2 linked regions of the Homo sapiens genome follow. The protein of the gene in region 1 interacts with the protein of each later gene in a biochemical or structural test. Each region holds a gene or a part of one and is shown on either strand. Other genes may lie near its edges.

What was found.
Region 2: the proteins of LHX1 (region 1) and OTX2 form a complex in vitro, tested with the Homo sapiens proteins (one study listed by BioGRID).

What each region holds. Positions count from the first base shown.
Region 1 is NC_000017.11:36,935,778-36,940,359, forward strand, and holds the start of LHX1 (LIM/homeobox protein Lhx1), read left to right. Parts: upstream 1-1,697; 5' UTR 1,698-2,420; coding exon 2,421-2,590; intron 2,591-4,512; coding exon 4,513-4,582. UniProt on the Homo sapiens protein: Potential transcription factor. May play a role in early mesoderm formation and later in lateral mesoderm differentiation and neurogenesis.
Region 2 is NC_000014.9:56,803,849-56,807,650, forward strand, and holds part of OTX2 (homeobox protein OTX2), read right to left. Parts: intron 1,820-3,802; exon of another isoform or gene 1,728-1,819; 5' UTR 1,609-1,727; coding exon 1,512-1,608; intron 516-1,511; coding exon 340-515; intron 1-339. UniProt on the Homo sapiens protein: Transcription factor probably involved in the development of the brain and the sense organs. Can bind to the bicoid/BCD target sequence (BTS): 5'-TCTAATCCC-3'.

The sequences.
Region 1 (4,582 bases):
CCTGAGGAGTGAACTATGGAGGGTGTGGTTTGCTGTTGTCTGGGGAAGCCGGTGCCAACCCGAAGCCTGGACAGGGGAGGACTGGAATCCCGGCACACGCTGCCCATGCACTGCACGCCCATCTACTGCAGCCTCTTCGTGGCGTCCCGGCACCCCCCCCTCCTCCTTCCCTCTTCCCAACGCCACGACCACCACCCCCAGCCGCCGCTGGAGCCCCCGGTTTCCCGCCTAGTCGTTTGTTTTTGTACGTAAAAGGTGTCTCCGGATCACAGTTTTCTCACAACTTTCTCGCCAGGGTTGCAACTCCTCACCCGAGGCGCTTCCCGGTCCACTCCTTCCCCCGCGCCGGCGCCGCGCCTCCGGTCTCCCCGCCCCCATCAGGAAACCGCCCGAATCAACTTTGCAAGAGTGCTCTGCGGGAGACAGACACTCAGCTCGCCCAGGACCCGGACCCTGTGGACTTTGGATGGATTGGGGGAGGGGGCACAGAAAGAGGGACGGGAGGAGGGAGATTCTGCTGCTAAGAGCCTCCTCCCCCTCCAAAGATGTGCGCTGCGCTTGGGACAAACTTCCAGCTCAAGAAAGTACGGGGGGACAATGGCAACAGCCGCTGAATTGCAAAGCCCAGCAGTGCAGGGGAGCCGCCTGGGATTCCGGACCCGGCTGCACCCCAACCTTCCACAAGGCTCGGTCTTGGACTACCCCCACTCTACAGCAGAACTCTGGCCTCCGCCTGCGCCTATTCCCGCTCTCTCTCTGTCCCTCCCATCGAAACCCACGCCTTACCGGAGCAGGAGGGGGCCCAGGCACGGTGCTGCCCGCCGTCCGCGCCGCGCGGGGCCGCGGGTGCCGCCGCCACTGATCCTCTAAACGCGGTCTCCCCGCACTCTCCCGGGCCGGGGGATGCAGAATGGTTTACAGAGGGACCGCGAGGCGCTGATTGGTCGCAGGCCGCAGTGACGTCAGCGGGCGCTGCATTAAGGCGAGGGGGCTTCCAGAGCTCAGCCAACAGCCAGGAGCAGTGACCAAGCCGCCGGAGCTGGGGAGAGACGCACCGGGGCGGCGACTGGGCCAGGAGACCAGGGACTGAGGGACGCGCCCGGGGAGGGCCAGCAACGAGCCGCGGCCCGGGCGGCGACAGCGGCGGTCCGCGCCGAGCCGTTCCAGCCGCCGGCCTACTGTAGCCGCTGCGCCAGGACATTTTTTTTTAAAGCTCTCCAAGCTGCCCCCCTCCTCCCCGACTCCTCCCGCTGCAAAAGAAAAACAAAAAAAAAAAAAGGAAGGAGGCTAGAAAGGAAACCCAGATTTGCCACCACAACGAAAAAAAGAAGGGGAAAAGGAAAAGGAGAGAAAGTCGAGCGACTGTGGGGTTAGACGGAGGCAGACAGAGCGTGGGCCGAGCGATGCGGGGCTGTGCGCCCAGGCGGCCGCGAGTTGTGACTGGAGCCACGATGCACGGCCAGGCGCGGTGAGAAGCCAGCCCGTAGTGCCTCCCGAAGGAGCCCGGGCGCAGGGAGGGTCGCCCTGAGGACACGGAGGCCGCCAGGCAGGCCAAGGGCCGAGGTGACTGGGCTGGGGCGGTAGGGAAGGAGCGAGTGCGCCTGGCTGCCTCCGCACGGAGTTGTCCCTCTCTGTTTTCGATTGACACAAACACTTCTCCAAAAGCGGGGAAACCTAAGCAACAACAGCAATCAACACCAAGATCTTCCTCCTACCCTCCCCTCTTTCCCTTCTCCCGCGGTCGGCCCTCGCCCCCTCCCCCAGGCCCAGCGCGGGCGCTCGGCGCGTCCAGACCCGCGGCGCGATGCCGGCAGTTTAGGATCCAAAGCTTCTCTGCTCCTTTTGTTCTTTCCTTCCCTTTTTTAAAAAAAGAGGGGGGAAATCCCAGTGGTGGGCAGCCTGGCACGCACACAGTCGCCCTCATACCCCGACAAAAGCAGATGCACTTTGACTTCTGACAGCTCTACCTCAAGCCCCGGAGAACTCAGCGGCGCTTTCCTCGCAACCCGAGCTCGGCGAGTCGTCGTCTTCTTCTTCTCCGTTTTTATTTATTTATTTCCGTTCCCGCCGCCGTTCTCGCTGACCTTCACTCCTCCGCGGGCTCTGAGCAGAAGGGTCGCATTCTCTCCCGCCTGAGACTTCTTTTCCTCGCCCCGGGAGCTCAGGCGGCGCCGCTCCAGCCCGGGGCCCCGGGACTCCCCGGCTGCACACTTCACTGAGACGCCCCCCCAGGCCCCGATCAGCCTCGTTTCCTCCACCCTACTTTGATTTCCTGGTGCGAGTTTTGGCTTGCACGGCCGAGTGTGTGTCCTCTTTTTGGAGAGACTGGGGAGCTCGTGCCGATTGTCTTCAGGAGTCATCCCCTGGGCTCTACTTTGCCCCTCTCTCTCTCTGGGCCTCATCAGACCAAACCAAAGACCATGGTTCACTGTGCCGGCTGCAAAAGGCCCATCCTGGACCGCTTTCTCTTGAACGTGCTGGACAGGGCCTGGCACGTCAAGTGCGTCCAGTGCTGTGAATGTAAATGCAACCTGACCGAGAAGTGCTTCTCCAGGGAAGGCAAACTCTACTGCAAGAACGACTTCTTCCGGTGAGTACTTTCCTCCCACGCCTCTGCTGCTACCTCCCCGCGGGCCCTTCCCGGCCAGCTTCGGATCAGAGGTTAGCGTGGCCTCGCTGCCCAGTTAGGAACTGCTTCTAGAGAGGGCAGCCAAGTCCCGCGGGCGCCCGCCTCTCCGCCAGCTGGCGCGCTGGGAGCCCGGGACGCGGCCCTGCTTGCATCCTGGAAACTATGGGTCTGGGTTTGGCTGCATGTGCCTGGGAAGAAAGGGTCTGAGCCTGACTCGGCCCAGAAGCCCCTTCAAGCTTGGAAGAGACAGGGCAGCCTCGGGCGTTGTAGCCCGGACTGCTGTCTTTCCCGGAGCCAAGCTCTGCAGCAACTGCATTCTCCAGGCCTTCGGGGTTGTTTGCCCTCCAGGCAGAGCCCAGGCTCCCTCCCGGCCACTACCTTTTCCGACCCCGAGCGGTCTTGGCGGTAAGCTCCGAGCCTTTTGCGTAGAGTGTCTGGGCCAACTGCCCTGTCAGCGGCAGGAAAGAACTCGGCCTTAAAGCCGATCCTGCACGCCCGGGGGTCTTCCCCAAACCCGGACATGCCTCCGAGTGCAGACCTGGACAAACTGCTGCACTGTAGCCTGCGAAGTGCCCGGAGCTTTTTCCTGCTTCCCTGGCTGCCGAAGTTGTCTGGTGGTTCGGCTTCAGCCCCAGGTGACTCCGACTCCCACGGGCTCCGCTCAGTAGTCCTCCTAGGAAACTGCCAGCCACAGCCAGCAACCTCCTTGATGAAACCTGGGGGAAAGCCGAGACCTCCAGCTTGCTGGTGGGGAGACTTCTCCCTACCCCCCTTATTCGTTTAGCATTTTAATTATATTATCGTACACTCACAATTTTGCCGCTCCATTCACACAAACACACAAGTCAACAGAGAAGAACGGGCACAAATGCGAATTGTAATTCCACCCTACGGATGTGAAATATCGCAATTTACTCGGCTGACTTGGTCTCTGCTTTTCTGAGTTTGTGGTCATAGTTCAAACCAGGGAGCAGGAGGAAGAGGGATTCAAAGCCACTCAGAGGGCCAAGACGCGCTGTCCCCAGTGCCGCTCCAGGACTCGTGGCTGGGGTTGGGTTGCGTGGAACCATGAAGCAAAGCTCCGTGCTCGCTGGTATTTCGGGAGAACGCGCAGGCTGAGCCTCTGAGCCTCCGCGGGCTGCCCGGTTTTCCTCAAGGACTGGATCATAGCGGGAGGGTGGCAAACCGTACTCGTACCCGCTGCCAGTGGGTCCCTGAGCCTGGCTTCCACAACCCGCGGCAGAGCGCCCAGAGCCAGCTCCCGCAGCTCCCGCTTTTGCCAACCTGTCCCGCTTTAGGCAAGAGCGTGGCGGCGGCCCCGCTAAGGCTACGGAGGGGGGCTCTCCGCGGCTATGTTTGTTTACCAACAGCGGGGCTAGACATCGCCAACCCCATGCCTATGTGCGGGTCCTTTTGCGATGAAGGAGAGAAAAGCGGCGCTCCGCGCACGTTTATATAGAGTTCTAATTGTAATTCGACTTTTCTGAATCTAATCGGAAAATAAGTGCCCCGTTCCCCCCGCCCACACAGGTCACTGCCTTGCCACCTTCTTTAGACGATGCATCTTTCCTCTGGGATAACGCTGGGAGTGAGGCTGGGGCTTGGCGGGTAGCTTGGGCCCCTGGCTCTAACCGCGTGTATCCCCTCCCTAACTCTTCCCTGGTGCCGCGCTCTCTCTCCTGCTGCCTCCTCACCTGCTTAACCGGAATTCTGCCTCTCTTTATCTCTCTCTTCCCTTCTTTCTGTGCTCCATTCCTCCTCTCCTACTTCCTCCACTTTTTACATCTTCCCTCTTTCTCGCTGTCATCTTTCTCTCCGCCTGTCTCCCCTTGCCCCTGGCTGACCCATCCCCGCCCCCGCCCCCCACCCCCACCCCCCCGCAGGTGTTTCGGTACCAAATGCGCAGGCTGCGCTCAGGGCATCTCCCCTAGCGACCTGGTGCGGAGAGCGCGG
Region 2 (3,802 bases), on another chromosome or scaffold:
CTAAGCTGCTTTCACACGTACAAGTCCATGAGAATAGGAGAGGATTTCTATACAGAGGAAGGGAAGGGTTACAACACCACGTGACTACTCTTGAAACCTGCTCAAGGATGGGTCTCTCTCCACCAGCAACCCGGGCCTTGAAGACCCTTGCTTACGGGATTAAGTGGTGACGGGCAGGCAAAAAAGGGCAGAAGGAGAATAGTTTCCTGGCCCCTTAGTGAGTGAAGGAGAATTTCAAGCCTTCCTTCAGTCCTCTGAAAGACCTGGGGCTCTCCACAGTCCCATACTCGGGAAGGGTGGCATGATCAGGAAGGATGGTTCTGCCTGCATCTGCCCTACCTGCACCCTCGACTCGGGCAAGTTGATTTTCAGTGCCACCTCCTCTCGCATGAAGATGTCTGGGTACCGGGTCTTGGCAAACAGTGCTTCCAGCACATCTAGCTGCGCCCGAGTGAACGTCGTCCTCTCCCGGCGCTGTTTCCGGGGGGTGGCTGCGGGACAAGAAGCCCAGGGCCCTTTAGGGTGGGGGAGCAGTTTCTCAGTCATAGGCGTTTCCGCGGGTTCTCCGACGCCCCTGCCCTCCACCCCGCAGCAGTCCCCCGTTCCTCACAGCCCTTCAGCCGGGAGCCTACCAATGCTCTCCCCACCGTCTCCCCAGCCTTGCTCCCCGGGGACCCAGGACACACGCTGCTTCTTTCCCTACTCTTCTTGGTGTTGAGATTGCTCCAATCAGAGCATCACTTGGAAAGTTAACAAATGAAACATTTTTTAAAAGACACACAAAAAAGTTCTCCAAGATCAACCCCCAAACCACAACACAAAAAGGCTATTCCAAGAAGTCAAAGGATCTCCGAGGACAGACTGGCAGCTCGAATTGATGGGGGAAATCTGGATCCTGTTCCCATGGTTTTTAGCACACCATGGGCCTTTGTTCCTCCATCTTTAAAATGGGGACATAGTTCATACTCCTGGGAGGATTTTTAAACATATCTGATTGGAAAGGAAAGCACCCGCATTTGGAGGAAGTCACGCCTCTTGGGATTAAAGCAGGCTCTGGAGGTCATAGGGGAAGGCCTGGGCATGGAGGGAACAACTGCGAAGCCCGAGAGTGCTAAGGACTTACGGAGGGAAAACTCAGCTTCTCCAAGAGGACACTTCTGAGGAATTGGTCATTGAGATATGGGTAGGGGTCTTTTGCCCAAATGACAAGGACAGTAACCTTCCTCATCCCACTCTGATGCCAATCCTTATTTACTCGAATTAAGAATAAAGTGATGTGATTGTAACGGTTGCAGACCCACCTACTCACTTTTCCCAACCCCTGTTCTCTGCTTGGTCAGTAAATGCCCTGGGACTGCTTCCTCAGAAGGCAAACCTAGAGGAGACCAAGCCTGAAGCTGGGTGGGGACAGTGTGACTGCCAACCCCCGTGTTCCATGGGAACAGGGTGTTGCATCCCCGGAGGGTGGGCATGGGGAAGAGGGGTGCGGGAGTGCAGCAGGGCTCACTTACCCGGGTAGCCCACGGAGGGGTGCAGCAAGTCCATACCCGAAGTGGTCAGACTCAGCCCATTGACTGCGTAAGGCGGTTGCTTAAGATAAGACATCATGCTAAGGTTGTTTGGAGGTGCAAAGTCGGCCCAAATCGGGGGTACCCAGCTGGAAGATCTTGATGCGCCCGGGGTGGACAGGTTCAGAGTCCTTGGTGGGTGGGTTTGGAGCAGTGGAACTAAGGGCAAAGCAAACAAACAAACAGAGGGGCTGGTTTACTGCTTCGGAGGCAGCAGCTCTTCCACGTTCCAGCACTAACTTAAAAAGAGCACGGACTAGGCGAGGCAGAGGCTTTTAAAGGACTTGCAGACACTCCCCCCACCCCCATCCCCACCCCCACCCCCAGCTGCTCTGGAACTAGAGGGGATGGAAGGAGACCAGATAAACCTGTCTTCCCCACCCCCACCCTAAACTTAAAAAAAAAAAAAAAGTACCCGAAGAAAGCAATTACAATCTGCCTTCCCCAAGAACAAAAACCCGTGCCTTCAAATGCACACATTGCATTCCTATCCCTACATTTGCATAGGACTCATTGGCTGGCACTAGCTAATTGTCTCAAACAAAACTTGATTGGGGCCATTTGCAGAGACAAAGAACTCTTTGGCTAAATAAATAATGCTGATAACAAAGCCCATTGGTGAGAAACAAAGAAACAATTCAAGAAATCTACCTCTCCCCAGACTGTTGCCTTTCCATGGCAGAGATTTTAATTATCTTAGCTTTTTACCACTTTCAACTGCTGCGAACCTAAAATGTCAGTGCGTTTAACATCTAAAATACCAACTCACTAAACCACAAACTTGGAAAAACCGCTCAACCACTATTATTCCACATTTGAAGTCATTTCCGGTAATCATTTTCACCTAATTAGTAGTCTGGGTAATTAGATTTCGAGGTAAGTAACAGATTTATTAGGGTTTTGGAGAATCTTGATTATATGTGTCTAAGGAACGAAAGCTAAACAAACAAGTATTTAACTTTTAATAGACACCCATCAAATATTTAAGCATATTCCAAAAAAGTCTTCAAGATTGGCACAGGGCTTGCCAGAAATTGTGAAGTAAAGTTAGAATCCCACCAATCAGATAATGACGGGACCCCACATTTGTAGTGCAAGCTGCTTCCATGTTGATTTTGATGTGTGGAGGCTGCAGATCCTGCGGGAGGCAAATTTTCAGACATTTGGGTCCTCGGCAGCTGCAGCAGAGTTTCCTGTTAACTCTAACTGCCTTTTGCACATTTTAGTTTTGAAGAAAGTAGATACACAAACACCCAAAGTTGTGAAACTAGTAGAATTTCTCCCTACCTTTCAAGTTTCCTACAATCCTATAAGAAAAAGAGCTCAAGGGGGAAAAGAAAGGAAGAAAAAGAAAAGTTATTTACTTTCTTCAGCTGAGCTCCCCGCCTCCACCCCAGCAAAGAGATTCAAAGTAGATGTTAATATAGACTGGCAGTTTGCAAGTCTGGCCTTTATTTTCCTAAAATGTGGCACTTATATGCAAGGATCTCTACTTTGAAACTTTGACACCATGAGAGATTGCTTCAAAATGGCGGATACAAGATAAAGGTCTCACTGACTTTAAAGGACTCCGGGTTTTCATATTTACGTTGCTTAAGACAGCAAGGCACAAAAGTCCATAAATGAAACTTAGTAACTGCAACTTCTTTCTGATTTAAATTCAGAGCACAAAAGTCATGCTTTTCTACCCTAAGATCTAACTTAATATAATTTTATAAATGTCTTTCTTGGAGGAGTTTGTATTATCCTCAGTACAACTAATTTAGTTGCCCCTACAATACAGACTTTATGTTTTTGTATTGTCTTTTCTTTTCAAAATGCTGTTCTTTGGAGGCTGCGAAAATAAACAAAAATCTCCAGCTTAGAGGCTGTTTAAACACATATGCGACAGCTTTAAAATACAGTTGTATATGTGTTTAAACAGCCTCTAAACTGGAGATTGGAGATTTTTTGTTTAATCGTACTACCTTGCAAAATTCTGAACTACAGTGCTATAGAGAATCGTAAAATCATATCAGATGTACCCTTGAGAAATATGGAAATGTTCTTACATGTAGAGCTCTCACCCAATTAGAAATGCCTGACACATCATACAATAAAGTAGCACATTCCAACATAAAAAGCCAGTAACACACAGAAAGCACCAGGGCCGAGATCCTTCCAGGGGCTCCTTTGCCCTTACCATTGCAAAATGGCTAAAATTCTCAAAATAGACTATTTTCACTTTTGCTCCT